Regions from separate parts of the Homo sapiens genome. Here all the other regions are reported to be linked to region 1. The links are microRNA targets in miRTarBase. Many come from high-throughput screens and were not tested one by one. Region 1 holds a microRNA gene; each other region holds the end of a gene's coding sequence.

The links. The annotated mature microRNA hsa-miR-4709-3p reads UUGAAGAGGAGGUGCUCUGUAGC and lies in region 1 at 1,821-1,843, opposite strand. An mRNA with a match to its seed (bases 2 to 7 or 8) in the 3' UTR can be bound and repressed. Matches are read on the target gene's strand: a 7mer-m8 pairs with bases 2 to 8, a 7mer-A1 pairs with bases 2 to 7 and ends in A, and an 8mer does both.
Region 2: the mRNA of KLHL15 is a reported target of hsa-miR-4709-3p. Seed matches in the 3' UTR shown: 7mer-A1 at 1,794-1,800.
Region 3: the mRNA of ZNF239 is a reported target of hsa-miR-4709-3p. Seed matches in the 3' UTR shown: 8mer at 3,559-3,566.
Region 4: the mRNA of CERS2 is a reported target of hsa-miR-4709-3p. Seed matches in the 3' UTR shown: 7mer-m8 at 1,145-1,151.
Region 5: miRTarBase lists SLC2A4 as a target of hsa-miR-4709-3p. Seed matches in the 3' UTR shown: 7mer-m8 at 2,526-2,532 and 7mer-m8 at 2,291-2,297.
Region 6: miRTarBase lists LMNB1 as a target of hsa-miR-4709-3p. Seed matches in the 3' UTR shown: 7mer-m8 at 2,974-2,980.
Region 7: miRTarBase lists SETD7 as a target of hsa-miR-4709-3p. Seed matches in the 3' UTR shown: 7mer-m8 at 2,890-2,896 and 7mer-m8 at 1,573-1,579.

What each region holds. Positions count from the first base shown.
Region 1 is chr14:74,478,315-74,482,639 of GRCh38, forward strand. MIR4709 (microRNA 4709) reads right to left here and starts at 1,890; the gene lies at 1,819-1,890. It overlaps NPC2 (NPC intracellular cholesterol transporter 2), which reads right to left. Exons shown (of 5, transcript NM_006432.5): 4 at 2,388-2,465; 5 at 1,626-1,974. The coding sequence ends at 1,960. It also overlaps a transcript of SYNDIG1L not described here.
Region 2 is chrX:23,984,368-23,988,367 of GRCh38, forward strand. It overlaps KLHL15 (kelch like family member 15), which reads right to left. Exons shown (of 4, transcript NM_030624.3): 4 at 1-4,000. The coding sequence ends at 3,554. Among named protein-coding and RNA genes, the nearest start is that of KLHL15, 41 kb to the right of the region's middle.
Region 3 is chr10:43,552,787-43,557,111 of GRCh38, forward strand. It overlaps ZNF239 (zinc finger protein 239), which reads right to left. Exons shown (of 4, transcript NM_001099282.2): 4 at 3,558-4,325. The coding sequence ends at 3,917. Among named protein-coding and RNA genes, the nearest start is that of ZNF239, 20 kb to the right of the region's middle.
Region 4 is chr1:150,962,313-150,966,604 of GRCh38, reverse strand. It overlaps CERS2 (ceramide synthase 2), which reads left to right. Exons shown (of 11, transcript NM_022075.5): 10 at 1-129; 11 at 317-1,419. The coding sequence ends at 457. It overlaps SETDB1 (SET domain bifurcated histone lysine methyltransferase 1), which reads right to left. Exons shown (of 22, transcript NM_001366418.1): 18 at 3,886-4,018; 19 at 3,466-3,631; 20 at 2,864-3,075; 21 at 2,522-2,610; 22 at 1,868-2,358. The coding sequence ends at 2,241. Among named protein-coding and RNA genes, the nearest start is that of CERS2, 10 kb to the left of the region's middle. RefSeq lists cis regulatory regions at 1,116, 1,752 and enhancers at 1,043-1,187, 1,680-1,824.
Region 5 is chr17:7,286,090-7,290,414 of GRCh38, reverse strand. It overlaps SLC2A4 (solute carrier family 2 member 4), which reads right to left. Exons shown (of 11, transcript NM_001042.3): 11 at 2,158-3,989. The coding sequence ends at 3,786. It overlaps YBX2 (Y-box binding protein 2), which reads left to right. Exons shown (of 9, transcript NM_015982.4): 5 at 1-164; 6 at 344-447; 7 at 690-885; 8 at 1,577-1,666; 9 at 1,772-2,152. The coding sequence ends at 1,627. Among named protein-coding and RNA genes, the nearest start is that of YBX2, 6.4 kb to the left of the region's middle.
Region 6 is chr5:126,835,299-126,839,623 of GRCh38, reverse strand. It overlaps LMNB1 (lamin B1), which reads right to left. Exons shown (of 11, transcript NM_005573.4): 11 at 2,604-3,401. The coding sequence ends at 3,360. Among named protein-coding and RNA genes, the nearest start is that of LMNB1, 60 kb to the right of the region's middle. RefSeq lists enhancers at 1-23, 24-768.
Region 7 is chr4:139,507,670-139,511,994 of GRCh38, forward strand. SETD7 (SET domain containing 7, histone lysine methyltransferase) reads right to left here. Exons shown (of 8, transcript NM_030648.4): 8 at 1-4,174. The coding sequence ends at 3,994. Among named protein-coding and RNA genes, the nearest start is that of SETD7, 46 kb to the right of the region's middle.

The DNA of each region.
Region 1 (4,325 bases):
ATGCAAGTTATAAACAATGAAAGATATACAGTATTAAAACATTGTTTCAAATTTGAAGAATAAGTGGAGGAAAGAAAAATATATTTTAGAACTTAGATATGTAAATTATTTCCAAAATAGTTTAACACTCAAACTAGTCAGCTGTATCAAAATCAATTCTCCCTGAAGTAGGCACTGTTCCTAGCTAGAGGCAAGTACTCATTTTGCATGGTATTGTGAGTCCTGTCTTCTTTTAACACAAGGGCAGAGGAGTATGCAGGGTGGGTAGCTGTTAACTTCAAAGGAGCTAAATGGCATGAGAAATCTTCTGGGAATAGGGAGACAGTGGACACATGAGAATTGAGCTTTTCCAGGCCTTTCAGAAAGTTCTTGTGCACAGAGGATAGCCTCATCCTTCTGAGGAGACATCATCAAATCTCAGATTGAACCTTCTAATTTTCCTGCTATTTGTAGACAAAGAAGAATGTCTGTCTCCCAGAGTGACAGCTAACATTTAGAGAGTATATACTATAGCCAGGGTCATTCTAAGTGTTTTACATGCCTCATCTCATTTAGTCTTCACAGCCCTATTATTATTAGTCCTATTTAACAGATAAGGAGACTGACACACAGAGAGATGAAGTGATTTCAAGATCACACTGGTAGTCCTGTTAATTGTTGGTGCCAGGATTCAACCATAGGCAGTCCGAAGCCAGAGACCCGCACAACAGTTAACAGCCTCAGGAATTCACACAATTCTGATACATCTAGAGTCTGGTATGGGAGACAAGGTGGACTGTCACTCTAGACTCAATGTGGCAGGATACACAAAAGATCTTAGGTAAAAAGTACACTGGTTGACTGGCTCCTAGCATTAACTAGGAAAGCTTGGCTGTTGATAACTGTATTCCTGATCCATCACTGTCCCCTGGTGGTTTTCCTGGGAAACTCACAGACCAAAGAAATCCAAGGGTCTAGTGAAATTAGTGGGATGAAAAGAACTGGATCAAATCAATCACTTGCTCACAAGCACTTTGTATGAATGTTCCTTCCTTTTGCCCTAACAATGGATGACCTAAGGTCCATGTTATTCAACTCAATTGTGAATGGGGTTGTAATCCCTGTACCACCTAAGAGCTGACTGCTAGTATACTGACTCAAAATAGGTGGCAAAATATATGCCCATGATTATACTTGTACTTTAAGATAGGAAACTCCAAGATTTAATTAATTTAGCCATTACTTGCTACAACTTCACATTTCATTTTTAAGCTTCTAGGCTTTCTTCACAGCAGTGTTCCCAAAAGATCACCATGCCTCATCCTAACCTGTAATCCCTAACCCCTACCTGCCCTCCCCACCAAATTCAGTTCCTTCAACCTTTCAGGCGTTATTATTCAACTAGGTGATTTTTACTTTCACTGCTTCTTTCGAGCATGCTTGGTGGTATAAGATTGTGTCAAATAAAGCAAAACAAGGCCATTTTATATAAAATAGATATGGTCTTACTGGACAAAAAGGAGGAAAAAGAGTTTCTGAAAAAGTCATGTCTTCAGTGCACTCTGGGACCACGGAACTGGGGGCCTGCCTTCCATGGTTCTAGCAGAATGTACCCTGAAAGGAGCAGGAGAAGACCACAGCCCACATGCAGAAGACAAGACAAACGAGTTTTTATTTATTCAAGAGTAAATTTCCAGGTGTAGAAAGAGGCCACAAGTTAATGTTGTTAAAAAAAAAATTAAACATCTGCTAACCAAGTGCTGCATTTAATGAAACCACCTAAGACAGAAAAAGAGACATGAGACAACCACTGAGAACCAGCCACCCGGAGCTCAGTTTCTGCTACAGAGCACCTCCTCTTCAACGAATCACTGGATACCATTGGAGAGCAAGTCACTGTTGTTGAAGCAGCAGAGCTGGAGGTGCTGTCAAGAGTCTCAGCAGACTCATTGGCCAGATGCACCGAACTCAATGAGGCACTTAGAGATGAGAAACCTGTGGATGTAATGTCCCAGCTCAGTGGAAGTGGTTTGGAACCTTTCCTCCACTGTCAGGGCAATAACCCTAGGGCAAGTTATCAGACATTCCTAAGCAACCTCCTTCAGGTCCTGTCTGGCTGGACCTTCCTTACTCCGACAGAAAAAAACCAATGAAGACAGTTAAATCAATCTCTACAGTCTCACTCTCTCTTCTTTCCTTCAACCTTTTTTTTTTTTAACAAAGGATATTACAAAGGCAACAGTTCTGAGCTCTCAGGAAATAGGGTCTCAGATGCTTTTAGAGGTTGAGAGGCATAAAACAGCAGTCTTGAAATTCCTTTTATCTTATGGCACTGATTTAGTTTCAGTCTGATTTCTCCTCCACTTTCTTCCCTCCACCCATGCCCTCTCACCCCCAGATAGACTTACGATCTGTACTGGGATTTCCCAGCAGAAGAGACTTTGGTTTTTGTCATCCTGAAGTTGCCACTCCACCACCAGTTTTATCTGGAGAAAGAGAAAAATAATTGAGAAAAATGAAAATAGGACCTGACTTCTATCCATAATTGGTTTAACTATGAATCCTAGATGTACAGTAGCAAACTTCCTAACTCCTCATACTTTTTTTCTTAAATCATGAGGGCTGCTTAGCATGTGGGCACAGCTTACAGCCTTAAGAGAGTGAACAAAGTTATACTTGTGATTTGATGCTAGCAGCACCACATACTAACTTGGTTAATTTATCAAATGTAATTTCTAAAGCATTCTCTTCTCTCTTAGATCAATGGCATATAAATGAAGTGATACGGTTTGGTTATTTGTCCCTTTGAAATTTCATGTTGACATGTGACCTCCAATGTTGGAGGTGGGCCTGGTGGGAAGTATTGGATCATGGAGGAAGATCCCTCATGAACGGCTTAGCACCGTCCCCTTGGTGATGAGTGAGTTCTCACTGACTTCACATGAGATCTGGCTGTTTAAAAGAGTCTGGGGCCTCCCCCTTCTCTTTCTTGCTTTAGTGCTGGCCATGTGACACGCTGGCTCCCCTTTGCCTTCTGTCCTAACAGTAAGCTTCCTGAAGCCTCACCAGAAGCAGGTGGTGGCACTATGCTTCAGGTACAGCTTGCTGAACCGTGAGCTGATCAAACCTCTTTTCAAGTTACCCAGTCTTAGGTATTCCTTTACAACAAGGCAAATGGACTAACACATGAAGGCTTACATGAATAATTTCACATTTAAGCAATTTCTCATGTATTTGGCAATCTGATCCAGCTTTTTCCCAATGTAACCATGAAGAGCAGAGAGTAAAAAAAATTTAGATTCTTAGGTATAAGGAAACGTTCTTGTTAGCTAGAAATGGAAATGTCAAAGCACAAAAGATGGCCTAGAGAAGTCTGTAGCTGTATGAATAATTTCAAGGATGACAACCTTTTGTAGCAATATACTTTCAGTTAACGCCCTTAAACTGCTTTCTAATAATGTACTTCATCAGAAATCCCTGCCTTGACTTGTTACACTCATATCACGTGAGTGGTCCCTTCCAATTCTTGATAACTCACTGACACTCTGCAGGTCCTTTCTTATGTGGACATTAGCTTACTTGTCACTAGTTACTACCTCTCTTTTGTACTCTAATGTTTCTTCACAATGGAACATGTGAGTGGCACTGATATTCAGGTTCTTGAAACTTGCCTTGTGAGTTTTTCCAGACTAGTATACATTAACTACTGCTTCATTTAGTGCTTAAGCAGTTTGAGCTATTTTTCAAATTAAATGTAACTCATTTAACAGACAATAACTACCATACATTAAGTACCTACTACGTATCAGGCTCTGACTAGTCACTGCATACGTAACTGAGGTTCAGACATGCCCATGGTTATGTGGATATTCATCTACTAATCTGTCCCTGACCTCTAAGGTCTCCAACAGCCCTTAAGCACAGACATCCTATATTTGAGTCTCTTTAGAATGTTCTTTAATTACTTACCTTTCCTAGAAAATAAATGGCCAGATATTGCTCCTGAGTTCTACTTGATTTCAAGAAATGCGGCTCTTTTTCTTCATGGAAAAAGGCCATCCCTCTATTTCCTCCATTCTTATCAAGATACATATCTTTAATACAGGTCCACTGCAGCAGGATCTACCTTATGAGTGCTTGGTAGAAAAAGAGGTAGGTGCAGCAGGGATGGGTCAGAGGTGAAGGTGGGGATTGGAGGGCAGAAAGAAGGCTGGAAAAAGCTACCTCTCTGCCATGGAGCTAACAAACTACTGCTCTCTTGTTTTGTTAAGAGATTAATGGAGAAACCAGGATTTTCTGATGACAATGTTAAGACAACTTGGATCTTTAATTATTTGGTACCTGGC
Region 2 (4,000 bases), not on the chromosome of region 1:
ACCAACTCTAAATGTAATTGAACAAACATATGATCTCTCAAAATGTTCAGAATACAAAAACAAAAATCAAAAATGTATAACAGGCAAACAAGAAAACTGGCACTAGCAGTTTTACTGCCATATAGCCCTCAATTATATCTGATTTACACTATTATCTATGTTGCATTTTACTTCAGTCTAAAACTTTAAATTATGAATTCTCAAAAGAGCTAGTCTCCTCTGAGAGATAGCTTATAAACTGAAATAACAATTTATATTATAAACTGAAATGTTATGACCTACACCCACATATACATATATAAAAATAGTCCCACTGAACGTTTGACATGTTTAGATTATGCAGCTCAAATAATCTGTTATAAAATATTTTAAAGCTTAGTTTCATGTAATTAAGACAAAACTCCATTTTTACCACTTCTCCCCACATAAAGCGTGTGTCCTTTACTATGACTCGAGCAGGCTTCCCAGAATGAGGTGTCCAAAGGTGCTGCTTTAGAAAAGATAAGTGAAGGGCTCAGTCAGTATTTCACAAATTCTAGTAACACTCACACAGAGCAGAGTAATGAGGACACAGAAAGCTGTCTCAAGAAAAGCTAATAATTCTATTAGTTAAGCTTTGCTTTTTAAAAACCAGTAGCATTTCTTCCAACACAAAACCTTCAAAGTGAGAATCTTGCATTTTAAGAAAAGGCTGTAGTGCAAGGAATTTCTTTAAAATCAAAACTTAGAAGGTCAAAGACACGGAAGAGAACAAATGGTTCTAATTAAGATGTAATTAATGAAGATCAGCTATTTTTGTGAACTCTGGCATTTGAGATATAAAGTGAAAACAACACGCATAAAGGTCATAACAGTTAAACTGTATAGATTCAAATCTTACTGAATTTTTCAAAAAACTACTTTTTTGAGCGCAATGTATATAAACAAAAACTCCAAATGAAGCACACAAAAAATAAACTTGAAAAAAATGCTATGAAAAACTTTTCCATAGTTTAGTATAACAAAAATAAATCTCTTGCAGCAATAAAACCATAATTTTAAAAGGGAATGTAAGTTAATCATGGATTTAAAATAACCTAAATTAGAACTACATATAAACAGGGAGTTTTCTCATACATTCAGAACCCAAGCAACAGCAACTATCCTTAAAGCTCAAAACTGATTACAGCTAACATCAGGTCCGACGTGACTTACGTAAAGCTGAACCCAGAGTTAGTTCAAGTTAAGATTTTACGAATTTTACAAAACATGAACTTTGATCTTGGCCTCTGTCTTTAAAATGGAAGACCAAGAATACTCAAATGTTTGCCCAGATGTCACCCTGACTAGGGTCATGAAGTCATATCTAAGCAATTAAAGAGAACCACCACTATAGTGTAAAGGCTTTGATGTGGATACCTGGCCTGATGGCTCTTTCTTGGTCTTTTCTAGCAAAAGACATCAATGAGGAAAATAATGAAGACGTTATTTTCTTTAAAGCAAAATAGCACACATACAAAGCCACTAAACTAATGTAGAAAAAAATTAAATGGCTAACTTATTCCTAACTTTCAAAAATAAAATAATGTATTTTTTAAATGTAGAAAAAGACTTTTACCCATATTACCATGGGAAACAAGATACCAAATTTCATGTTTGGAAACTGTAAGTAAATGACAGGACTAGTTAATGAAAATATAAGTCTCATATATAAAATAAGATTATTATTGATTTTTGAAATCAATGCCAATGGTTTTTTCAAAAGCTACTTATGTACCTGGTTTCTTAAACCCAAATGCCTCCAATTCTGGAGTTTGAAGATCAGGTTTAATCTCATAGTATGTCTAATAACTGCCCAAAAAACCCCCAAAAACCAAAGTCTTCACATTTCCATGACTTCACACTTCCATTTTATGTTCAATGGTGGCAGCAGCAAAAAAACAAACAAACAAACAAAAAAACAAAAAACACCAAACAAAGTGAAACTAGAAAATTTATACATCAGCAGCCATATAGAAGGCATTGCAATATTGCACCAATATTCTAAGATCTGGCAAGTTTTGCCAGTATAGATCTAGTCTGTATCAGATATAGACTACTCATGCGCAAATGGCATCAATTTCAATGATCCACTCCCAGGTTATTCTTGCTTAACTTTGTCAACTATGTTTTTTCCTCTGCATTTAAAGAGTTGAAAGGTGCAGCTAATCCTAAAACACTTATTATAAATGCTTTTAAACAGCTATTCTTGATCCATTCTGAACTTTGTGGTTACTATCCTTCATGCTAATAGCTTTCAGTAAATAAAACAAAAACTGAGGGCTTACATCCCTAGTGTCGCTGGGTATTTTGTACAAAATAAACAAGTAGATAAAACCAGTAACATTATAATTCTATTTCTTACCTCTAAGTCAAAACTGAGGTCAAATTTTCTAAGAGTTTCTACCTTCCATTCAATAACAAATGCAGCAGCCTTACTGAATGTAAAAAATGGGAGTTGCACTTACTTTTAAGGGGCCTTGATTTAGGAGTCTGGTATTACCTAAATGCTCTTTAAAAGTGCTTGCATGCTGCAGGGCCAGAACTTGTCATATACCACTCCGATTCTCACTAAAAACAGGGTAACGTTAAACAGACTGCAAAGAAAAACATTTTCAAAAAGAAAAGACATACATCGACAAAGAACACTAACATTTACTTTTGAAAATAAAATATAAAGTGTTAGTTTTCATAACCATACATGTTTCAGAAATATAAGGAGTTCAAATATTACTGAATCAGTATGGACTGAAGATAGGCTACTTTGATAGCAAATGAGGACTCCAGTTATTTCAACTTTCTAAAAATGTTAATATGTGAAAAGACGTTACATCTAAAATTCAACAAGTATGGCGAACTGTGTGTGCAAGTAAGTGCACTAGCTTAAAAATATAGAATCCTAACCACGCATAAAAGGGATGTGCCTTGTGTATTTATAGGTTGTATGCGAGTATGAATATGCTTTCACTAACACAATGCGGATAAGAGAAGGCAGCTTAGAAATAGTGTTTTGAATATAAAAAGTTAATTTTGTAGAAAATTTATATTTTTGCATTTTCAGCAAAAAGCCATGCAAAAAGGTCAAGAGTTTTAAACTTTTAAATAATAAAACTAAAAAGTATAACAGACTGAAATACACTGAAATAAATCTTCAAAAAGGTTTCAGATAGAGACAGAGACTGAAATCACATCCAGTGACACTTATCGGGTCTTCTCTTAGAAGACACATGACTCCTACGCTAACATCTGAAAGAAATGTTTAAAGCAGAAAATCAATATCCCAGATAAGTGGAGCATTCTATTCAACTGCTTCTGGAAGTAGTTTCAAGAGCTAGCACTTAGAATTAACTTATTGCATGAGTTTGAGGCCACTGAAAAGAAAAAAAGGATGCTAGCACAGAATGAAAAATTCTTACAATGTTAGACCAATGGCTTTGATAGTAAAACTGGTGAGGTTTTTCTTTATATGTTTTAATTAATTACTCTGTGCAAACAAATACTTTGTTTGCCTCTTTTTTTAGGGAGGAGGATGTCATTAGTTGCAACGCCTGACCTCATCCAGTACATAGTCCGGAAAATGCAGGTTGCATACTTGTAAACCATCCAGCTTGCAGGGCATCCGAGGGTACTCATCTTCCTTCCACTTGTTTTCATCCGGATCAAAAGTGAGGATGGAATCGCTGTAATGACCATTATAACAAAGGCCTCCAAGAACCATTATTTGTTTGTCCAGCACAGTCACACCATGGCCACTTCTACCAATCGGCATGGATGCCAAGATGGTCCACTGATCAGTCTCTGGGTTGTATACTTCTGTAGAAGGGCATCCCTGAGATTCGAAAGAGGCCCTCAAGATCACACAGACACCACCGAAGACATAAAGCTTGCCATTGTAAGAAATCATCTTGTGAAAGCATCTCGCGTAATTCATCTTGCTCTTATTCTCCCAACAGTTGGTAACCACTTGAGTTCTCCTGGTCCG
Region 3 (4,325 bases), not on the chromosome of region 1:
CCGTAATCCCAGCTACTTGGGAGGCTGAGGGAGGAGAATCACTTGAACCCGGGAGGCAGAGGTTGCAGTGAGCCGAGATCGTGCCACTGCACTCCAGCCTGGGTGACAGAGGGAGACTCCATCTCAAAGAAGAAGAAGAAAAAAATCTTAAAAAATTGTTTTGACTTTGTAGGTCCTTGAGGTTTATAACTCATGCATACAGTGTATCTATTTATTTTTAGGACTTATTTACTTTTTTCTAGCATTAGTACATGTTTTGTAGCTTTAGTACAGGTCTAGTAACTTTGTCCCTACATTTCATAATTTTGATGCCGTTTTCATACTTTCAACTTTTTAAAAATATTGAGCTTGTATCCTGTGACCTTGCTAAACATACTTACTAGTTTTAAAAACATTTTCAGACACTTTATGCTTTTCCATATAGACAATCATGTCACAGCAGTCTCATGCCTTCTTTCACATTCTGTATCCCTTTTCTTTGAGACAGGGTCTCACTCTGTCGCCCAGGCTGGAGTGCAGTGGTGCGATCACAGCTCCCTGCAGCCTTGATCTCCTGGGCCTCCAGTGATCCTCCTGTTCAGCCTCCTGAGTAGGTGGCACTACAGGCACATGCCACTATGCCTGGCTAATTTTTATTTAAGTTTTGGTAGAAATGAGGTCTCACTATATTGTCCAGGTTAGTCTTGAACTCCTAAGCTCAAGCAATCTTCCCACCTTGGCCTCCCAAAAATGCCAGGATTTTAGGCATGAGCTACCACACCCAGCCTCTTTTTTATTGGCTTATTGTACTGGCTAGGACATCCACTACAAGGTTGACTGGAAGTGGTGACTAGACATCTTTCTCTTGTTTCCAATCTTAGGAGAAAAGTGCTTTTTACTTCACCAGTAAGTACGATGTCAGATGTAGGTTCTCCCATAGATGCTCTTTCTTAGATTCTTGAAACTCAATTTAATTCCTAATCAACTGAGCGGTTTTATCATGAATGGGTGTTAAATTTTTTCAAATGTTTTCCTACATTAAAAAAATTGTGGTTTTTCTTTTTAATATTAATATGAAACATTGCTTTTTGAATGTTAAAGCTTGCATTTCTAGGATAAACCCTACTTGGCCATATGTGTTTCCTTTTATAGATTGCTGTGTTCAACTTGGTATTTTAAAAAGGATTTTTACATCTATATTAAGAGATATTGATCTATGAGTTTTTCCTATGATGTCCTTTTTGGCTTTGGTATCTGGGCAATGTTGGTCTCATGACTTTTCTTTGGGGGAAGGTTATCAGCTAAAAATTCAATTTAATAGGACTATTCAAGTTCTCTCAAGTGGGCTTTGGTTCTATAGTCCTTAGGATAAAATTTTCCAATTCATTTAAGTTGCTGAATTTATTGGAATTAAGTTACTAATAAAATTCCTGTATTACCTTCTTGGTGTATAGGACCTATAGTGATATTTACTCTTTCATTCCTGATACAGGAATCCTTTCAACCCTTTCAAAGAGTTAGGTTTTGGTTCCATTAAATTTTCTCTATTGTTTGTCCACTTGTGATTTTTGTGACTTTTAGCTCTGTATCATCTCCTGTTCTACTTGCTTTGGATGATTTCTGTTCTTTTTCTCATTTCGTAAGGTGGAAGTTTAGACTATCGAATTGAAATCTTTATCTCTGATTTCACCTCTAAGCACTGCTTTAGCTACATTTCACAAATTCTGACATATTCATTCAGTTCAAAATATTTTCAAATTTTTCTTACTTTCTCTTTATTGCTCATTTAGGAGTATGTTGTTTAATTTCCAAATACTAAGAGATTGTTCAGACATCTTTGTTATTGGTCTCTTACTTAATTCTGTCCTGGTGAGAGAATATACCTTGTATGGTTTTCATTCTTTAAAAAATTTTAAGACTGTTTTATTACAGTCCATAGTAGGCACACTTGAAAAGAATGTATACAGGTTGGGCACAGTGGCTCACATATGTAATCCCAGTGCTTTGGGAGGTCCTGGAGGGAGGATTGCTTGAGCCTGTGAGTTCGAGACCAGCCTAGGCAACAGAGCTAGACTCCATCCCTACAAAAATAAAAAATAGCTGGGTGTGGTGGCACATGCCTATAGTCCTAGCTACTCTGGAGGCTGAGACAGGAGGATTGATTGAACCCAGGAATTCAAGGTTGCAATTAACTCATTGCACCACTGCACTTCAGCCTGGGTGAAAGAGTGACACACTGTCCCTAAAAAATAAAAATATATTAATATATCATGCTAATGAGTGTTCTACAAATGCCAATTAGTCAAGTTAGTTGATAGTGCTGTTCAAGGCTTATACCTCCTAAGTGACTTGTGCTATCAATTACTTATTTAACTATCTAATTATAATTGAAATTGTGCCTCTTTCAATTTTGCCAGTTTTTATTTCATGAATTTTGAAGCTCTGTTTATGTGTACTTAAGCTAGAAAGTAGCTTTGCTGTAGGATTCCCGAATTCCCATAATACAGAGGTCTTTCCCTTGGGGCCATTCAACTTCTGCAGAGAAGAAACTTCCCATTTCTTGCTGGACGTTAAACCTCTGGTCAGCCACGTACAGGAGTTGGGGAGCAGTGTGTGTTTATGTAATGAGGAGGTATGTTCCATATACAAATGGCCATTAGTTTCATTGCTTTCTCTTCACATCTCACTCCCATCTTCCAAGGTACTAAGCATTTCTGAGCCTGGTGCCAAATTGGTTCCTTCTTTTCCTTATCCCCATATGCAAGCAGCATAACTGTGCCTGCTTCTGCTCTACTGGCTATCTTTCCATCTTTCAAATTTTCATTTGCTGATAGTCTTTCTCCTATTCTCCTTATTGCTGTAGTTTGATAAATTAAATTTTCCTCGCATCTTAATGTTGTCCAATGTGATGAGACATGTTTAACAAAAGTGCATTCTCGAATACTTTCTGTGCTAGCCATTTTTAGCTTATCAAGCCCCAACATGATTTCTGCAGCCTCTAAGCTGCCCCCTGCTCCTTATGTATTCATTTTTCCAGCTCTGCCTCTGGAACCTATTTGTTATTATCACCTGCTCTCAGGTACCCCTCCTGAGTAGCTGGGTCTGCAGGTCTGTGCCAGCACACCAGCTAATTTTTGCACTTTTTTATAGAGACAAGATTTTGCCATGTTGCCCAGGCTGGTCACGAACTCCTAGGCTCAAGTGATGCACCCTCTTCAGCCTCCCAAAGTGCCAGGCATGTTACTTTGGACCCTTCCTCACATTCACTCTGGAAGTATCCCAATAAACTAGCTGTACTCACCAAAAAGGACTACTTATGTTCCTGAATAGTTGCCTGGGAGGGGCTGTTCAACTTCCTATCAAAATGGTATATGGGAATGTACTACATGAGTAACTCTCTTCCAGCTTTTTGTTGTGTGGCTACAAACTATTATATCTTTTTGCAATAAACACAATAATTTCCATGTCCATTGTATTTCCAACTGCCCTCTTGGCCTAAAATGGACGCAGTGTACAATCATAGTTTAGAGGGGGCTAATCAGGACTGGAAAGAAGTATGAAAAACACAAGGCACAAAATTTGAAGAGAAACCAGAGTTTCAATTTCTCAGAGAATGTGAACAAAGGGAAACATGCCCTGCTTGAGAATAAATATAAAGTTCTTGCCGTTAAAATGCTGGGTAGAACATGTAGTTGAATTGTAAAGTACAGACACTTTTACTCTACCCATCTGAGAAACAAGAACAATCCATTCATTGTACAGCATAACAAAGTGCTTGATACTTAAATATTTTGAATGAGTGATTTTTCAGTGAGGGAACATATCTAAATAACCCTTACATCTCTCTCCTTTGTAGAATATAAAGTAAGAGTGATACTAAATATTTAACAGTTTTTACAGTATGAGCGCTGTGAAGACCTGAATGGGCTAATGTCAGTTAGCGAGGATCTTTCTTGTGAACCCGCTGGTGGATGTGAAGGTTGGAGCTCTGGCTGAAGCCCTTCCCACACTTGCTGCACTCATAGGGCTTCTCTCCAGTATGTACTCTCTGGTGGATGAGGAGTTTGGAACTCTGGCTAAATCCCTTCCCACACTTGCCACAGTGATAGGGCTTCTCTCCAGTGTGGACTCTGAGATGGATGCGAAGATCCGAGCTCTGGCTGAAACCCTTCCCACACTCATAGCATTGGTAAGGCTTCTCTCCTGTGTGGATGCACCGGTGAATGTGAAGGTTCGAGCTCTGACTGAAGCCCTTCCCACACTCACCACACTTGTAGGGCCTCTCTCCTGTGTGTACTCGCTGGTGGATGTGCAGGTTTGAGCGCTGACTGAAGCTCATACCACAC
Region 4 (4,292 bases), not on the chromosome of region 1:
CCACTGGAGCTCTATCCTGCCTTCTTTGGCTATTACTTCTTCAATTCCATGATGGGAGTTCTACAGCTGCTGCATATCTTCTGGGCCTACCTCATTTTGCGCATGGCCCACAAGTTCATAACTGGAAAGGTGAAGCCCTGTTCCCATTGTGTAGGCCTTACTACTCTCTACAACTTCCTGAACTCCCATCTTGCCAGTAACTCTCTAAAAAACTAGTGTGGAGCCCTGGGTATAACAGGAACAAGCCCTCAGAGAGAAGCAGTACTTAGGGGTTTGAGGATCTCATGTAATAACCCTTCTTGTCCCTTTTCCACAGCTGGTAGAAGATGAACGCAGTGACCGGGAAGAAACAGAGAGCTCAGAGGGGGAGGAGGCTGCAGCTGGGGGAGGAGCAAAGAGCCGGCCCCTAGCCAATGGCCACCCCATCCTCAATAACAACCATCGTAAGAATGACTGAACCATTACTCCAGCTGCCTCCCAGATTAATGCATAAAGCCAAGGAACTACCCCGCTCCCTGCGCTATAGGGTCACTTTAAGCTCTGGGGAAAAAGGAGAAAGTGAGAGGAGAGTTCTCTGCATCCTCCCTCCTTGCTTGTCACCCAGTTGCCTTTAAACCAAATTCTAACCAGCCTATCCCCAGGTAGGGGGACGTTGGTTATATTCTGTTAGAGGGGGACGGTCGTATTTTCCTCCCTACCCGCCAAGTCATCCTTTCTACTGCTTTTGAGGCCCTCCCTCAGCTCTCTGTGGGTAGGGGTTACAATTCACATTCCTTATTCTGAGAATTTGGCCCCAGCTGTTTGCCTTTGACTCCCTGACCTCCAGAGCCAGGGTTGTGCCTTATTGTCCCATCTGTGGGCCTCATTCTGCCAAAGCTGGACCAAGGCTAACCTTTCTAAGCTCCCTAACTTGGGCCAGAAACCAAAGCTGAGCTTTTAACTTTCTCCCTCTATGACACAAATGAATTGAGGGTAGGAGGAGGGTGCACATAACCCTTACCCTACCTCTGCCAAAAAGTGGGGGCTGTACTGGGGACTGCTCGGATGATCTTTCTTAGTGCTACTTCTTTCAGCTGTCCCTGTAGCGACAGGTCTAAGATCTGACTGCCTCCTCCTTTCTCTGGCCTCTTCCCCCTTCCCTCTTCTCTTCAGCTAGGCTAGCTGGTTTGGAGTAGAATGGCAACTAATTCTAATTTTTATTTATTAAATATTTGGGGTTTTGGTTTTAAAGCCAGAATTACGGCTAGCACCTAGCATTTCAGCAGAGGGACCATTTTAGACCAAAATGTACTGTTAATGGGTTTTTTTTAAAAATTAAAAGATTAAATAAAAAATATTAAATAAAACATGGCAATAAGTGTCAGACTATTAGGAATTGAGAAGGGGGATCAACTAAATAAACGAAGAGAGTCTTTCTTATGCCTTCCTTGCAGTTATGTAATATTTTCTTTTTTAAATTTCACATGCATGTAATTTGAGCACTTTGAGGGGCCAAGGAGGGTGGATCACTAGAGGTCAGGAGTTTGAGACCAGCCTGGCCAACATGGCGAAACCCCATCTCTACTAAAAATACATCTAGCTGGGTGTGGTGGCGGGCGACTGTAATCTCAGCTACTTAGGAGGCTGAGGCAGGAGAATCACCTGAACCCGGGAGGCGGAGGCTGCAGTGAGTCGAGATTGCACCATTGCACTCCAGCCTGGGTGACAGAGCGAGAACTCCATCTAAAAAAATTCACATGCAAGAAGCAAAGGTAGACAAGGTAGAAGATGAATGACAGCAGCCCACAGGGGAGGATGGGGATAATACCTCACTGAAAGATCCAGAATTGGGAGTATCGGGCTGAGAGAGAGAAACAAAACCACAATCTTAGTTTTATCATATTGTTAAAAGACTTTCAAGAAATAATACAAACTGGAGATAGTAGATACACAGGCTCCATTCTAAGAACAAAGTCTGTTAGAAGCAGGAACACTTGGACAAATATGGGATGGGAGGGATGTCAGGCCGAGGTTAGAGTGGTGATCTCTCCCCACCCTTTAGGGCCTTTGGAGGTGGAGAAGGGATCCTGCCTGCTAGCACCACATTGGAAGGGATCATCTGGTCCAGAACCCCCATTTCTATCAACTAGGAGCTGGGGGGAGTAGCTAGCCCAGAGACTTCGGGTCAGGGTTCAACAATCAGGAAGACCCAGTTCCTGAGGAAACGACAGTTCAAGAAGGGTTGGGAAGAAGGCTGTCCTCTAAAGAAGACGTCCTCTGCATTCAATGGCCCCACAGCAACAGAGTAGCTCCTTGCCTTCCACACTGCCCACCTCGTAGTTGTAGTCCCAAGTAAGTTCTGTCCCAGCCCGGATTCTTCTGAAGAGGAAGAAAAGGATGGTGTGTGGCAAAGACAGCAGATAACCCAGGCACTTGGGGTTACTGAATATGTAGGTGGAGTTGGATCATGAATGGAGGAGGGGCCCTTAGAACTTCAGTGGTCCTTGCCCCTCCCCAGTCATCCCCTTTCCTGACTCCTTACTTGCTGGCAAAGAAGGCCACCCAGGGGAAGCGAAGATCATGGGTATCCACGAAGACATTCTGGACAAACAGGTTGGGGCTGCAACTGTGCTGTAGGTTTAAGGACAGGATCAAATAAGAACCAGGGAAACTGAACCTGGCTTTGCAGGGAGAGTGAGAGTTGGAAGAAAAATGATGCCATCTGACCCTCCCCATTATAATAGATGCTTTGAAAGAAAGCTACCTCTTTAAGATCCTTTGAGATCAAGAGTTTATAACAAGAAAAGGGCTTATAGAGTATGTTAAAAGAAATCTGAGGACCATGGGATAATCCAGCATCTAGAGGTGGGGAGAGGGGTCTCACGTTGAGGTAGCGGCCCAGGTTGCCTTCAAGCTTGGCATCAATGATGTAGCAAGACTCCTCGCCATCATAGAATTGGCGTGTGTTCTTACGAACAGGTGCGCTCTCCCCCTTGTCCACAGAGGCCATGTTGGTTGATTTAATTGCAATCCCATGGGTTGATTTAAGAGCAAAGCCTCGGGTTGATTTTACTGCCACTTGACGCTTCATTGGACCTGGACAGGAGGGAGAATGGGGTCAGGACCCATCCCAACTCATGAACAGACATTCTATCATGAATGGACATTCTACCCCTATTTCTCTCCCAACATTGCAGCTGAGAAACACCAATAAGCTGGAACTCAAAGATCCTAAGTAGCAGGTTTTTTTTTCAAGCATAATTAGATCTGCTAGACAAAGGAGCTGAGGGGAAAGAGTAAAAAAATGGAAATGAGAGAGGATGTGTCAAACAATAGTTTAGCTTGGAGTCAGAAAGCCCTCCCAGAGATGCTCCAATTCTTAGGATCTGAATTTTTACCCACTACTTCTTTAGCTTCCTTAAAAAATGCTCTATCCCAAGTTTCTTACTATTTCTTCCCACCATTCCCAAAATTTTTCCAGGCTACCAGTCATGTTCTTCTTGTCCTCAAAGTCATCCCCTTCAGAGCCAGAGGATATGGTCTGGATATCATCACTGTCAACCGCTGTAGCCGAAGTCTGACCAGCAGTGGGCTTTCGGCTGGTCCCACTTTCCCCCTCACTTTCTGTGCTGCTGGACAGTGTCAGGACATCCTGGGGAAGCAGGAGGGTAAGAAGTAAGAGAAGTAAATGGGAAGGGCTCCTTTAAGTCCTTGCTGTTACCCACGGTTTGGCAGGAAAGGGCGGTGGCAAGAGGAAGATTAGATGCTGGATGAAAGAAAATAAGGCAGGAAGTCAAGGCTAAAGAAGTAGGAGAAGACCTAACAGTAATTATAGTGAAGGACTTGATGAGGTGACAATGGCCCATTTTCCTTTATTAGACTCTGAATAAGCTTGAGGTGACTTACATCAGGGTTGGACTGAGCAGAAGCCATGAGTCTTCGGCTTTGATGCATACTAGTCTTACTAGGTGGGCGGCGAAGTCCTTCAGGCTTCACAGGAGAAGGATTGTAACCGTAATTTCGAGAGCTTTCAGTAACTCTAATGGGAGGGGAAGGAATGAAGCCAACAGGTTACTGGCTGTTTCTTAGGCTTCTAGCCTAGGTTTGAGAGAAGGCAGATTTGGAGACAGGTCAAAAAGACAGGCACTGGGCTGGACACGGTAGCTCATGGCTGTAATCCCAGCACTTTGGGAGGCTGAGGATCCCCTTTGGGAGCATCGCTTGAGCCCAGGAGTTCAAGACCAGTCTGGGAAACATGGTGAAACCCCGTGTCTACAAAAAATACAAAAACTAGCCAGGCATGGTGGTGCACA
Region 5 (4,325 bases), not on the chromosome of region 1:
CCATGGTGGCAGAGATCCCCTCGGCGGGGACAGGACCTGGCAGTAAAGGGGAGCGGGCTGAAGACTCTGGGCAACGGCCCCGACGATGGTGCCCCCCACCCTTCTTCTACCGACGGCGGTTTGTGCGAGGCCCCCGGCCTCCCAACCAGCAGCAGCCTATAGAGGTGAGGGGATGCTGGAATATGGGAGCCAGTTCCCCAAGTTCAGGAGAGGAGTGGGAGTTAGGATAGAGACCATGGGTCCCCAAAGAAGGAGGAACTGAGGGTTGGGCAGAGCTGTGGATAATCTGGCTCCAGAGCAGCTGCTGTCCCCACAGCTCACCGGGGCCTTTGCATGTTCCCAGGGCACTGACAGGGTAGAACCCAAAGAGACAGCCCCATTGGAGGGGCACCAACAGCAGGGAGATGAGCGAGTCCCCCCGCCCAGATTCCGGCCCAGGTACCGAAGGTAAGACCCCCCTGCTGGGGCTTGGTCTTCCCCTTCCAGTGTTGGATCCTTGGGGCAAGGGACAGGAGGATGGAAGGGTGAAGCTCTAGGCAGAGCCTGGGCTCCTGGCGAGACAGGTGCCTTGCGGGGAGGCAGTGCTCATGGGCTGGAAGCCTGGCTCCTGGAGGTGGGGTGGGGCAGCTGGGTGAGCCCTGGGGAGGGAGTATTCCCTGGTCCCCTCAGAGCCTTGTTCCTTGCCTTAGGCCTTTCCGCCCCAGGCCACGCCAGCAGCCTACCACAGAAGGTGGGGATGGTGAGACCAAGCCCAGCCAAGGTCCCGCTGATGGTTCCCGGCCTGAGCCCCAGCGCCCACGAAACCGCCCCTACTTCCAGCGGAGACGGCAGCAGGCCCCTGGCCCCCAGCAGGCCCCTGGCCCCCGGCAGCCCGCAGCCCCTGAGGTGAGGACCTCAGATGTGGGATGAAAGAAAAGGCTGAGACCAGCTCCCTCCCCCACCTGCTCCTTTTTCTTTCCTACTCTATCCTTTGGCTCCTCCCCTCCCCTGCCCTGGCCCTGCCACCACCCTCTTCCATGCAGCCTGCTGGGTCCCCCCCTGGCAGGTGCCGCCTCCCACCAGGAAGCCCCCACAGAGGCAATCAAGCCCATGATTGCCCATGATGGCCATGCCCCCCCCAACCCATCCCCCACTTGCTGCCTGGAGCCATCCTACCAGCTTGTAGATGTGAACTGAGGGGTGTGATTGAGGTTTTAATGGGAAGGGAAAAAGTGAAAGAAGGTTGAAGTTCAGGGCCCTGAAGAACAAGTCTCAGCCCTGCGCGATGTCTCATGCCTGTAATCCCAGCACTTTGGGAGGCAGAAGCAGGCAGATCAGTTGGGGTCAGGAGTTCAAGACCAGCCTGACCAACATGGAGAAACCCCGTCTCTACTAAAGATACAAAAATTAGCCAGGCGTGGTAGCACATGCCTGTAATCCCAGCTACTTGGGAGGCTAAGGCAGGAGAATCACTTGAACTGGGAGGGGGAGTTTGCAGTGAGCCAAGATCACGCCACTGTACTCCATCCAACCTGGAGTGAGACTCTGTCTCAAAAACAAAAAGAACAAGTCTCAATTGGCCACCGCTGTTCTTTAGACCTCAGCCCCTGTCAACAGTGGGGACCCCACCACCACCATCCTGGAGTGATTCCAACTCAACTCAGAGGACACCCAGAGCTGCCATCTGGTGAGTGGCTGGTGCAGTTGGGTGGGTGGCCAGGAAGGTGAGGTACTGGGTGGCGATGACAAGTCGCTGTTGTTCACAATCCGTCCATTTCCTTTTCTCTCTCAGGTATCTGCCAGTTTTTCCAAATGACCTGTACCCTACCCAGTACCCTGCTCCCCCTTTCCCATAATTCATGACATCAAAACACCAGCTTTTCACCTTTTCCTTGAGACTCAGGAGGACCAAAGCAGCAGCCTTTTGCTTTTTCTTTTTTCTTCCCTCCCCTTATCAAGGGTTGAAGGAAGGGAGCCATCCTTACTGTTCAGAGACAGCAACTCCCTCCCGTAACTCAGGCTGAGAAGGAACCAGCCAGCTCTTACCTCCTCCTGGTTGCTTTTCTTGCCCCCACCCCAAGTTTATTTTTGTTTTCCCCCGGCCCCCTACCTCTGAAGCCATTTTATGATCTGTCATGTGCCACCTGAGCCTCCAGTAAAAACAAAAACAGGCTTTCCTGTGGTCTTGGTCTCCATCTCTTCTGTTTTGGAGAATCGCTAGTAACTCACTGTTGAAGGTGGGGAGGAGGGGATGTGGGGCCGTGGGCAGGGCCTGGCATCCTTGCTGCCATGTCTCCAGCTGTGTCCCTGGTGAAGAGTGCCCCTATCATGGGTTTCACTGCCCATCTGTGACATGGGCTGACACCTCCCTCACAGAGTGAGTATTCTGCAAATGCCAAGAGCAATGCCCGGCACTGGCAGCTACAATTTATTGAGCATTTACTATTAATAAAGCAACGAGTAGAAATGTGAGTAGGGGCATGAGCAATGGCATCCAGAAGATTCTGAGGCCTTGAGCTGAGGCAGGACAGAGGGAGGAAGAGGGGTGAAGAGTTATGGTCCCTGTCTCAGCCCATCCTCAAGTACCTCCACAATAGGATGCTTGTCTTCAGCAGTGACTTTATAGAAGTATCTATATATATACATTTAGTACAACCGACCTTTGGTTTCTTCTCTCAATCCCCTTTTCAAACGTATATAAAAATATCCAAAGGCTCCTCCCAGCCCAGTGTTTCCAGGCAGCCTTTCAAATCCCCTCTTTGCCTTAGTTGGTCAAAAGCCTGTGGATGCAGCACCCTTCCAGGAAGGGAGAGGAAGAAAGTTAGGGCTCCTTCTTGGCAGCCTTGGGAAACCATCGGGGTAGAGCCCCAAGCCTAGAGGCGGGAGCCTGCCGTCCTTCCATCTTGCCACACATGGGCACATACTTTCCTGTTCCCTCTTGCCCTGGAAGGCTGAGCCTGCAGTGAGGGAGGTGAGTCCTTTTCCCTGCAGGGGTCAAGAGAGAACTCCCTTCGCCAGGCGCGGTGGCTCACGCCTGTAATCCCAGCACTTTGGGAGGCTGAGGCAGGCAGATCACGAGGTCAGGAGATCGAGACCATTCTGGCTAACATGGTGAAACCGCGTATATACTAAAAATACAAAATAAATTAGCCAGGTGTGGTGGCATGCGCCTGTAGTCCCAGCTACTCCGGAGGCTGAGGCAGGAGAATGGCGTGAACCTGGGAGACAGCTTGCAGTGAAGCAAGATCACGCCACTGCACTCGAGCCTGGGCGACAGAGCGAGACTGTCTCAAAAAAAAAAAAAAAAAAAAAAAAAAAAACCCCTTTGCCCAGAGTCTGCGTGGCAAGAATTCAGTGAAAGTCCCAGATTGTGGGAGGAGTCCAAGGTGGTGGGAAACTGGATTTCTTGTCTCCTGTCCTGCTCTCTGCTCTGGTTTGTCCCACTGAGAAAGTCTAGACCTGTCTTCCCTCCAATCCCCCTTCTCTAGCAGCGAAGAAGGTATTCTGGAGCTGAGTCTGGGGAAGGTGGGGAGGAAAGGGGATGGGGGAAGGAAGAGGGAGGGGAGAGTGGCCCACCCTGATGGCCACGGCCAAACCACAACACATAAATAATCCAAGAGAGTCACACGAGGGGAATGAGGGGGTGCTCAGACCACCCTTCCCCCAGCTTCCCAATTCTACCAGGCTGCAGGGATTCTTTTCCACCCGGAAATAATAGGGAAGAGAGGGTTAAAGTGCTGCAGAGGAAAGGAAGGGGTCTCTGGGCCGGGTAGAGAGAGCTGGCTCTCCCACCCCTGCCTGGCCCCTCAGTCGTTCTCATCTGGCCCTAAATACTCAAGTTCTGTGCTGGGTTTCACCTCCTGCTCTAAAAGAGAGGGTGTCCGGTGGAAGGCAGCTGAGATCTGGTCAAACGTCCGGCCTCGAGTTTCAGGTACTCTTAAGAAGGTGAAGATGAAGAAGCCCAGCAGGAGGACCGCAAATAGAAGGAAGACGTAGGGCCCCATAGCCTCCTGGGACAGGTGGAGAAAGAGGTGTTGACGGAGTGAGGTGGGGAGGGAAGGGGTAGTTTCAGGCAACCAGGAGCTAAAGGCCTTCATAGGGAGCTGGGGGGACGGCAGACAGCAGCTGCCTCCTCCAGGGACAAGGGAAATGAGCAGGAATGAGAATTTACACTGAAAAGAGGATTCTCTGAACCCCAAACACTCTTAGTTTTCGCCCTCTTCACCATCCTCAGTTACTGCACTCAGAGGAGAGTCCCAGCTGTTTGTAGTATTAATGCAAAGTGTATCATTTTATTCTTGGAGTAAGGTAAGTTATGCCACTGGTGCGTTTCAGACACCTCAGTT
Region 6 (4,325 bases), not on the chromosome of region 1:
GCCGGCCCTTGCCTTAAGTGATGAGATTACCTTGTGAAAGTCCTTTTCCTAGCTCAAAAAGCACCCCCACTGAGCACCTTGTGACCCCCCACTCCTGCCCGCCAGAGAACAAACCCCCTTTGACTGTAATTTTCCTTTACCTACCCAAATCCTATAAAACGGCCCCTCCCTTATCTCCCTTCGCTGACTCTCTTTTCGGACTCAGCCCGCCTGCACCCAGGTGAAATAAACAGCCGTGTTGCTCACACAAATCCTGTTTGGTGGTCTCTTCACACAGACACGCATGAAACGGATCACTCACAACATAGCCCTTGCTGGAGATGTGTTCACAATCCTAAAAACTCCATGAGAAAGCCAACTACCATTAGGAAAGTCAACAGACACAGCTAACAGAAAAATTAGCATTCTCCAAAACTCAAAAAAATAGAATTGAGACTATAAAATATGGTTAAAATGATTCATAAAAAGAATAAAAACTATAATAAAAAATTATGAAAAAGATAAATTTGAGAAAGAATCAAAGACAACTTCAGAAACAAAAAAATGAAGCCTAAAAAGTTCAATGGCTGGAATAAACAGATAAGACAGGGCTGAGAACAGAATCAGTGAGATAAATACGAAGGAGTTAACTGAGAATATAGTGTGGAGAAACCTAAAATACATGAAACAGGACAGGTTCAACACAGGTATAAAAGAAACCCCAGAAGGAAAGAACAGACAGTGGGGATGAGATAATACTCAACAAAATAAGAACATCCAAAATTTTCTTAATGAAGAACACAGAGATAAGACCTGAACAAGAGGAATAAAAATAAATCCATATCTAGGCGTGGTGGTGTGCACCTGTAATCCCAACTACTCAGGAGGCTGAGGCAGGAGAATCGCTTGAACCTGGGAGACAGAGGTTGCAGTGAGCGGAGATTGCACCATTGCACTCCAGCCTGGGCAACAACAGCGAGACTCTGTCTCAAAAAAATAAATAAAATAAAATAAAATAATAAAATAAATCCATACCTAAACAGAGGTGAAAACAAACACTGAAGACAAAACAAGGGGAAAATGTGAATCATGCTTGTTATCAAATAAATAATCCAAAAATGTATATATATGCTGTATGCCTAACATCAATTTCATGCGGAGATGCTGATTTTAATACACAGGATGGCAGCGTGCCCTCTAGCTCACTCACATTCTGCGGGAATGGGTTTAGGTGCAGCTCAATTTCAGAAAACCTCAATTTAGTCCAAAGTTTGTCAGTCTAAACAGACTCAGGAATCTACTACTGCCACACATCCAGGGGCAACAAACTGTTTATGTTGAGCCCTGCATTTGTACTCTCAATTTCCCCAGCATACACACTATTCTACTATGTTACAACTGCCAATTTTTCTTAATGCCCAAATTAATTCAAGTGTTGGCTTTTATAACCTAATTTATCCAGCAATAAAAGCACCTAGAATGTATTTTGATGACAAGAACCCCATCTTGTGGCAAAATGTTTCACAGCTGAGTTTGGCTGTGTACTGTAATGCCATTCCCACTCTGAAGATAAATCTGCGTTGAGAAGTTATCATTTTATCTGCTTTACCAGACAGAATTTCTAACCCAGCATTTATCTTGTGTCTGCGACGGCACCAAAGTATGCAGTAAATCTGCGGAACACAGTAATTCTGGGGCTTTGTGAGTTATTTTCAAGTGAAAGCTGGTAGTCTTTGTGCAGCTTACTGCAGGAATATTTTAAGAGAAAAACAAACACTGACTAGGGTTAGCTTCTGAAATATTATCTGTCCATTCTAGGAAGAGTTCAGATATTGCACTTCCTATAAGATGAACTCACTTAACTAAAGCAATCAAGACAAAACCTCCCCAAATCCACACGAATTGACACCATAATTAGCACCATACATAATAAAGCTACCCCACACACAGCACATTCGTATTTCATAGCATTCATGTTATTTTTCTAAAAGGTGGCTTTTAATCAATTTCTCGGCCCTTCCTATTTTAAAAGACAGTAGAATTACATTCTAAAATATTCTTCCCATTTTTTCTTTTACTAGGAATGTCCAGCATGGGAAACATGACAAAATGCTCTCTACGAATACAAAAACATTAGCCGGACATGGTGGTGTGTGCCTGTAGTCCCAGCTACTTGGGAGGCAGAGCCCAGGAGAGGTCAAGGCTGCAGTGAGCTAAGACCGTGCCATTGCACTACAGCCTGGGCAACAGAGTGAGATTCTGTCTTTAAAAAAAAAAAAAAAAAAAAAGGAATGTCTTCCTCAATGTTTTCTACTGTTCCTATTTGGTTTTCCTGAAGAAATTTTAAAAGGCCTTATTGTTAATAAGCTAAAAAATGTAATGAAGCATTGAGCATGATATCTGGCTCAAAAACATTAGTTATTATTATTGCTTTTATTATTGTTGTTATTAATGACAATTAAATACTGAAAGACCCCCAAAATAGCTTATCTTCCACAACTGGCAAAGCCTTAAAGAAAAATCCAGTTCAAAGAAGTCAAATTATATTTTTATCAAAAGCAAAACTGAAACAATACTTTTCTCCCCTCAAAATCTGTTTTTAAAGCGTTAAAAAGGACAGTATATCAATATTAAAAGAGCTTTTTTATTTGTTAATGTCACATAAGAAATTTAAGCAAGTTACACTATCTTAAAAAACACAACGAATGCATTTTAATAGAGAAACCCTTCCCTCCCTCCACCTCCCTCCCCCACCCTCCTCATGAATTAAGAATCTAAGAGAAGAAGTAACCATAAAACCAAGTTTTGTGGAATCCATCATCCAGAGTGCTTACATGGTGATTAGGTTAATATTGCCTTCTTACAAAATTTCTATTTTAAAAAAAATTATAACCTTGATTGCTTATTACAAAAAAATTCAGTACAAAAGTTCAATATATTGAAAAATGCTTTTCCCCTCCCTCACAGCACCGTTTTATATATAGCAGAGAATAATGAAGAGATTGCTAGTCTAGATGGGGCAATCTTCAAATTACACCAAGACGCACAGTGGTTTATTTACCCTCCCCTCCTCATAAGAACTTAAAAAAAAAGAAAAAACACACATACAAAAAAAGTCAAAAAATTTGAGGAACCCCTTCCGAACAGTACACAGTTATTAAGTTCAGTGTCAATAATTCACATCTTGCAACAAAGTGTATGGACATGATTTCTTTTACAAAACTTTCAGTGTCAAAAAGGAAATTAAGGCCATCAGATTTGCAGCTTAAAAATTCACATAAAGGAAATATAAAAATATTCTGTGCTTCTGAGAAGGCTCTGCACTGTATACAGGTAAAGATTACCATACTTCTTTATTTTGAGGAAGACAGTTGAAAATTTTACATAATTGCACAGCTTCTATTGGATGCTCTTGGGGTTCCCTGATGAGGAAAACAGAAGGAAAAATTAATACTAAAGAAATAGATCACAGTATTCTAAAATAAGACAAAAACTTTTAACTACAGGGATACCAAACCATATTACCTAACCTCAAATGGACCCTTTATCATCTCTCATCTTTTCTAACCTTTTCTTTTTTTCTTTTTCTTTGTTTGTTTGAGATAGAGTCTCACTCTGTTGCCCAGGCTGGAGTGCAGTGGTGCAATCTTGGCTCACTGCAACCTCTACCTCCTGGGTTCAAGCGATTCTCATGCCTCAGCCTCCCGAGCAGCTGCGACTACAGGTGTGCATCACCACCACGTTAGCCAGGCTGGTCTTGAACTCCTGGCCTCAAGTGATCCACCTGCCCTTGGCCTCCCAAAGTGCTGGGATTACAGGCGTGAGCCACCGTATCTGGCCTCTAACCTTCTTTTATGGACTTCTTTCTAGAATACCCCCCAACAAATTCCAGAACAGTAATTGTCAACTCTGGCTACACATTCAGATCCTGAGGAGTTTAAAACAAATTCTGATCTAGGTCCCTTGATCAATCAAATAAGAATTTCTCATTTTACTGGGAAAGGGTAGCTATCTATATATAATTTTAAAGTAATTCTAATGTGCAGCTCAATTTGAAAACCATTGTTCAATAACCTCTTTTGATAACTTAGGAAATAGGAGATCAGTGGATCAGCTTTTAACAACCACATCGGAGACTACAGCTTGCTAGATCCTGAACTTACACATCCCAAGCCATCTGCAGTGGATTTGTCCTCCAAGGTGAAGTCAACATGGCTCCTCTACCCATTTCTTTATCACTCATTAATTTCATATAACCTCACAATATGACTTGTGACTCACCACTGATTGAACTAAAACTGGTTTTTTGAAGGTCACCAAAATATTTCTAATCAATTCAAAAGGCG
Region 7 (4,325 bases), not on the chromosome of region 1:
TATGTACGCACACATTTGGCAAAAGAAAACTATTACAATTTAGTATTTTTAAAATTAAAAAAAGTGACAACGAGTTTCCAAATTCCTGAAGGGAAAGATAAAAGAAAAACAATAATAATCTATCAAGGTACCCCAAGTAGATGTAAATTTGATATACTTTGTGAACCTTTGATCTGTGGCAAATAAACATTACAACTGTCAGTCTTGCAACATAGTTTTGCTTGTTTTTCTAAAACAAAAGATATCTGGATTCTAAGTCACTACTCTTAAGACAGAAGCTTGAGGCAACTGTTTTAAAACAAAGCAAAACAGAAAATGATACCTCTACCTTCTTGGAAGATTTTAAATGCATGTTGCAGTGAGTGATTTAAATTTTTATATATTAAATGAAATTTACGAAAAGTGCCACATACTGTCTCCTGGAGAAGACAACCCTTTAATTCACTGTTCACAATTAATGCAATTTTAATAGTTATATTTAAATGTTAAAAATTGTTACATTTGGCCTCATTGGCCTTTCTGGGTGGGTCGTTGGTGATAAGGAAATAGTTTTTCGAGTGTGAAGAACCCCCATAGGGCAAATAGGTTTAACTACAGTCCTAGACAGGTTCAAAGAGCTCTTGGAAAACTAATTTCCTTCTTAGTGTCTCAGGTAGATCAAGGATGAAGCAAGTTAAAATAAGAATAGGTACTACAAGACTCAAGAACTCCTCACTGCTTTCTTTTTGATCCCATCATTCCTTTGTGTCGGAAATTCAGTCTTTCCAGTTGTTTTTGTTAGTCCATTCAAATGTCCATTTGGGGACATGCTCCTACAGGTTAGTTCCTATTCCTAACTCTAACACAAGATAATATTTCATCACAGAAAAGATGCTAAGGGAAGATCTGGTCATGCAGGAGTTGGACTGAGACAGCTCTGAGTGAATCTCCTTGAGATTACAGTGTCGCACACACACATAGGCTCCCGCTGTTTTTCAGGAGAGCATAAAGTTATTTCTTTATTCCCCACCACATGGAATCTTCCACGTCTGCTGTGATTCTGATGCGATGAAATGACCAGATGCAGCGGCTTCCTGACACATTTCCTTCCCCAGCAGATGTAAAGTAGAAAAATACATTCTGAGTATTCTTTTCCACTTGCGTTTAGGTTCAAACGGGAAACAAACCCTTCCGTCCTCAGCTGTTAATTCCTTATAGAACCTCCACTCCCTTGACTTCTTTCCCTACCTACAGAACTCAGTGAATCTCAAGCCTTACTCCGATTCCAACCTGCCACAGAGCCTTACATTTGGGAGTATGTGTGTGTGTGAGGGGAGGGGTGGGGAAGACAGAGCCAGAGACATAAGCAAACAGAGAGGCACACACAGAGGAAAAGCCAGATGAGCAGAGTCCCAAAGACATGCACAGAGCCAGAGAGACTCAAGAAAGGTCAGTGCAGGGGACTTGGAACAGGGAACAGGAGAGGGCAGCTGGGGCTGCTGTTACCCAGGATGCCCAGGCGTTCTCACATATGCAGAGAGAAGAGGAAAGAGAGCCGGCCAGAGAAAGAAGAGCTGGAAGACACAGAGAGTATGAAGAGAGTTGGGAGGAAGACATGGTGAGGCTCAGCGTGGATGCATTGCTTCCTCTGATTTGCGTGGAGGTCACAGACACACTGCTGAGTTTTAAGCTCAGAGTGTTACCATTCAATATCTCATCTGAAGAACTGATTAGCAGACTAATCACTACTTACAACTCTTCAATTCCTTCTATCCAATGTTGAAAAAAATTCCATTTGAATGGGATAATTAGAGTAGCCCCCACTTAGGACGTAAATTGTACCCCACTGCAGCCAGGACCAGAATGCTATCACTCTCAGGAATGAAATCATTCAGAGCATAGCTGCATCGGGGGCATGACCAGCACTATCCTCTCCCTGACCGTATTCCCTGACCTGGCTGCACAACCCACTTGATCGAGGTTAATGCAAGCCATCTTTCTCCTGAAGACAGTCACTCCCTTTGGGCACATTTAAATTAAAGCACCTATCAGAATGCAAGTCCAGAGGCCCTGGCCCATCCGTCACAGTGTATAGAACGGTCTCTTTCTACAGAGTAAGAGTGACCCTATCCTGGTGCCTTTAAATCTAAAAACTATTCAGTTCCTTTGGTGGGCAATCTTCCTGGAAGCACTGACAACTTCCTCTCATGGGTGAACCATTGGCTTAAGCTTTCAAGCAGGGATCCAACTGGATCTCCCTGAAACCACTGCCACCTAGCTGCAAAGCATGCAACCGGGTGCTCTAGGAAGCCTGGTGTTGCAAAGAAGGGAAGGGCAACTCTGTCAATGTGCCCAAGGGCCACCTGAAATGAAAGTCATGAGCAGCCTGGGATTAAGCACTTTTGTTGTAGTCTTCATAAAGCAATGTGCAACTGACAAGAAATAGCAAACTTCCTTCTGCCTATGTCCTCACTCTTCTTCCACTGAAGCCTTCTCTCATCAGCTGGAGCTCACTATCTGCTACAGCTTGGAAGGCCTTCGCTTTCCAGACCAAACTGACTCAGGTGACAGGAATCACAGCTGACAGCTACAGATCAGCACAACAGCTGCTCTCCAGTCCTTCCAGCCGCTGCATCGAGGTGTCTAAAAGAGACAAAGCTATGGCATGTGGTGAGGGTGCTTATAAAAAACAAAACTCTCAGGATTCATTCAGAGCAATCCCAGTGATGTTACAGATCTAATTAGCTAAACTAAAAAAACAGGGGTTTTCTCCTTATTTCTGCAGTTGTGATTACACATGGCTGGCAAAATGGCTGAAATGCTATTGATAGTGTTGCTTTTAAACTATACAGGTGTTCAGTCTTAGTTTACAATGTTTTGAAGCAGGTAAGTGCTTTGAAATTACAATGATGAAGAGTTTTAGCATCAAGGTTTGATTTGTACCTAGTAATCAGTGTGTCTGCCTTAGTAGTACTGACTAAAAAAATTTTTTTTTGAATTCTGTTAGAATTCAAATTTGCTGTTTGACTTTTGAATTCAATGCACTGTGCCACAAGCCTGACCGCGCTATGTTATGTACATTTAATGTGTACTCAAGGAGGAAAAAATTACTAGCACTACTGAAAATATTGCAAAATTGCCATAGTTACCGCTTAGAGATACTAGTTTTCTTCTCTTCTTTCTTAAAGTATATATTACAACTCTTCCATAACTTAATGCAAACAAAGTAAATTCATTTCTTCTCACATCTTAAAGCAAAGATATCTTTGTTTACATGCGAGAATAATATTCTATAATAATACCCTGGCCCTATGAGCCAGTACTTTATATTAGGACATAATAATAAAATGATGATATAGAAAGAACCAGAGAGACCTACACACTGCTATTGATGCAAAAATCCATTTGGAAGTTTTCTCTTGTAAAGGGTATCTAAGAAAGAGAATAGGGCTGAGGGGTGAAATGACTTTAGAAGTGGGCTCCTATTTACTAAGAAAAAAACCAAAGCCATTCTATTGCAAGATACAGATCAAAGGTTAAAAGGCAAATTATACTACATTTAGAGAATAAAGATGTAGTAATTGTCAACCCTTAATACGGCACATATGCAAGTGTGCTAACACAATTTGCACTGGCCATAGGAAAAAAGCACTATGGAAAAACCACTGACTAAAAATGACTGAAAAACCCCGTTTCCCTGTTTCAGTCTAATCATTTGGCATCTCCGAATGTGGTACAGATTTAGACTTGAACCACCAAAGAACATCACGCTGTCTTATGTCAAATGCTCGACAATACCTCTCAGTAGGACGTTGTTGCAAGGCTAGCTAATTTTAAATCTGGTATGAGTAATACAGTCAAACCTAGTTAGTATGCGAGAAAGTCGTTGCTAACGCATGGTGAGAGGATGTGACGTCACAGCATGAGCAGTCCCTGGTTGTCCCATTGTCAGATAAACGTAGTGCATAGATCCAAGTTTCTATTCCAGGTCTCTGAACCCCAAAGCCAGGCCTTTCACTTTTGCTGGGTGGCCTGGAAGGCCTTCAGCTCCACCTGGTACCACTCAGGGGCTTCAGGCCCACTCTTCCCGGGGGGGCTGTGGTCATAGCCATAGGCAACGGTGAGCTCTTCATCGGCCTCCACTGCTCTCAGGGTGCGGATGCATTTGATGGGCCCAAAACGGGGGTGGACAAACCTAAACATCAAGATGCACACAGTCATTCCCGGGCCAGACCAGGAGGTTGGAAGCAAAGGCTAGGGAGGGGCTGATACAGGAATCACCCCCAGGCACTCTTCCCTGGGCACACCTGGTATGTGCCCAAAGTGTGGTCACCCAGCATCAGTTT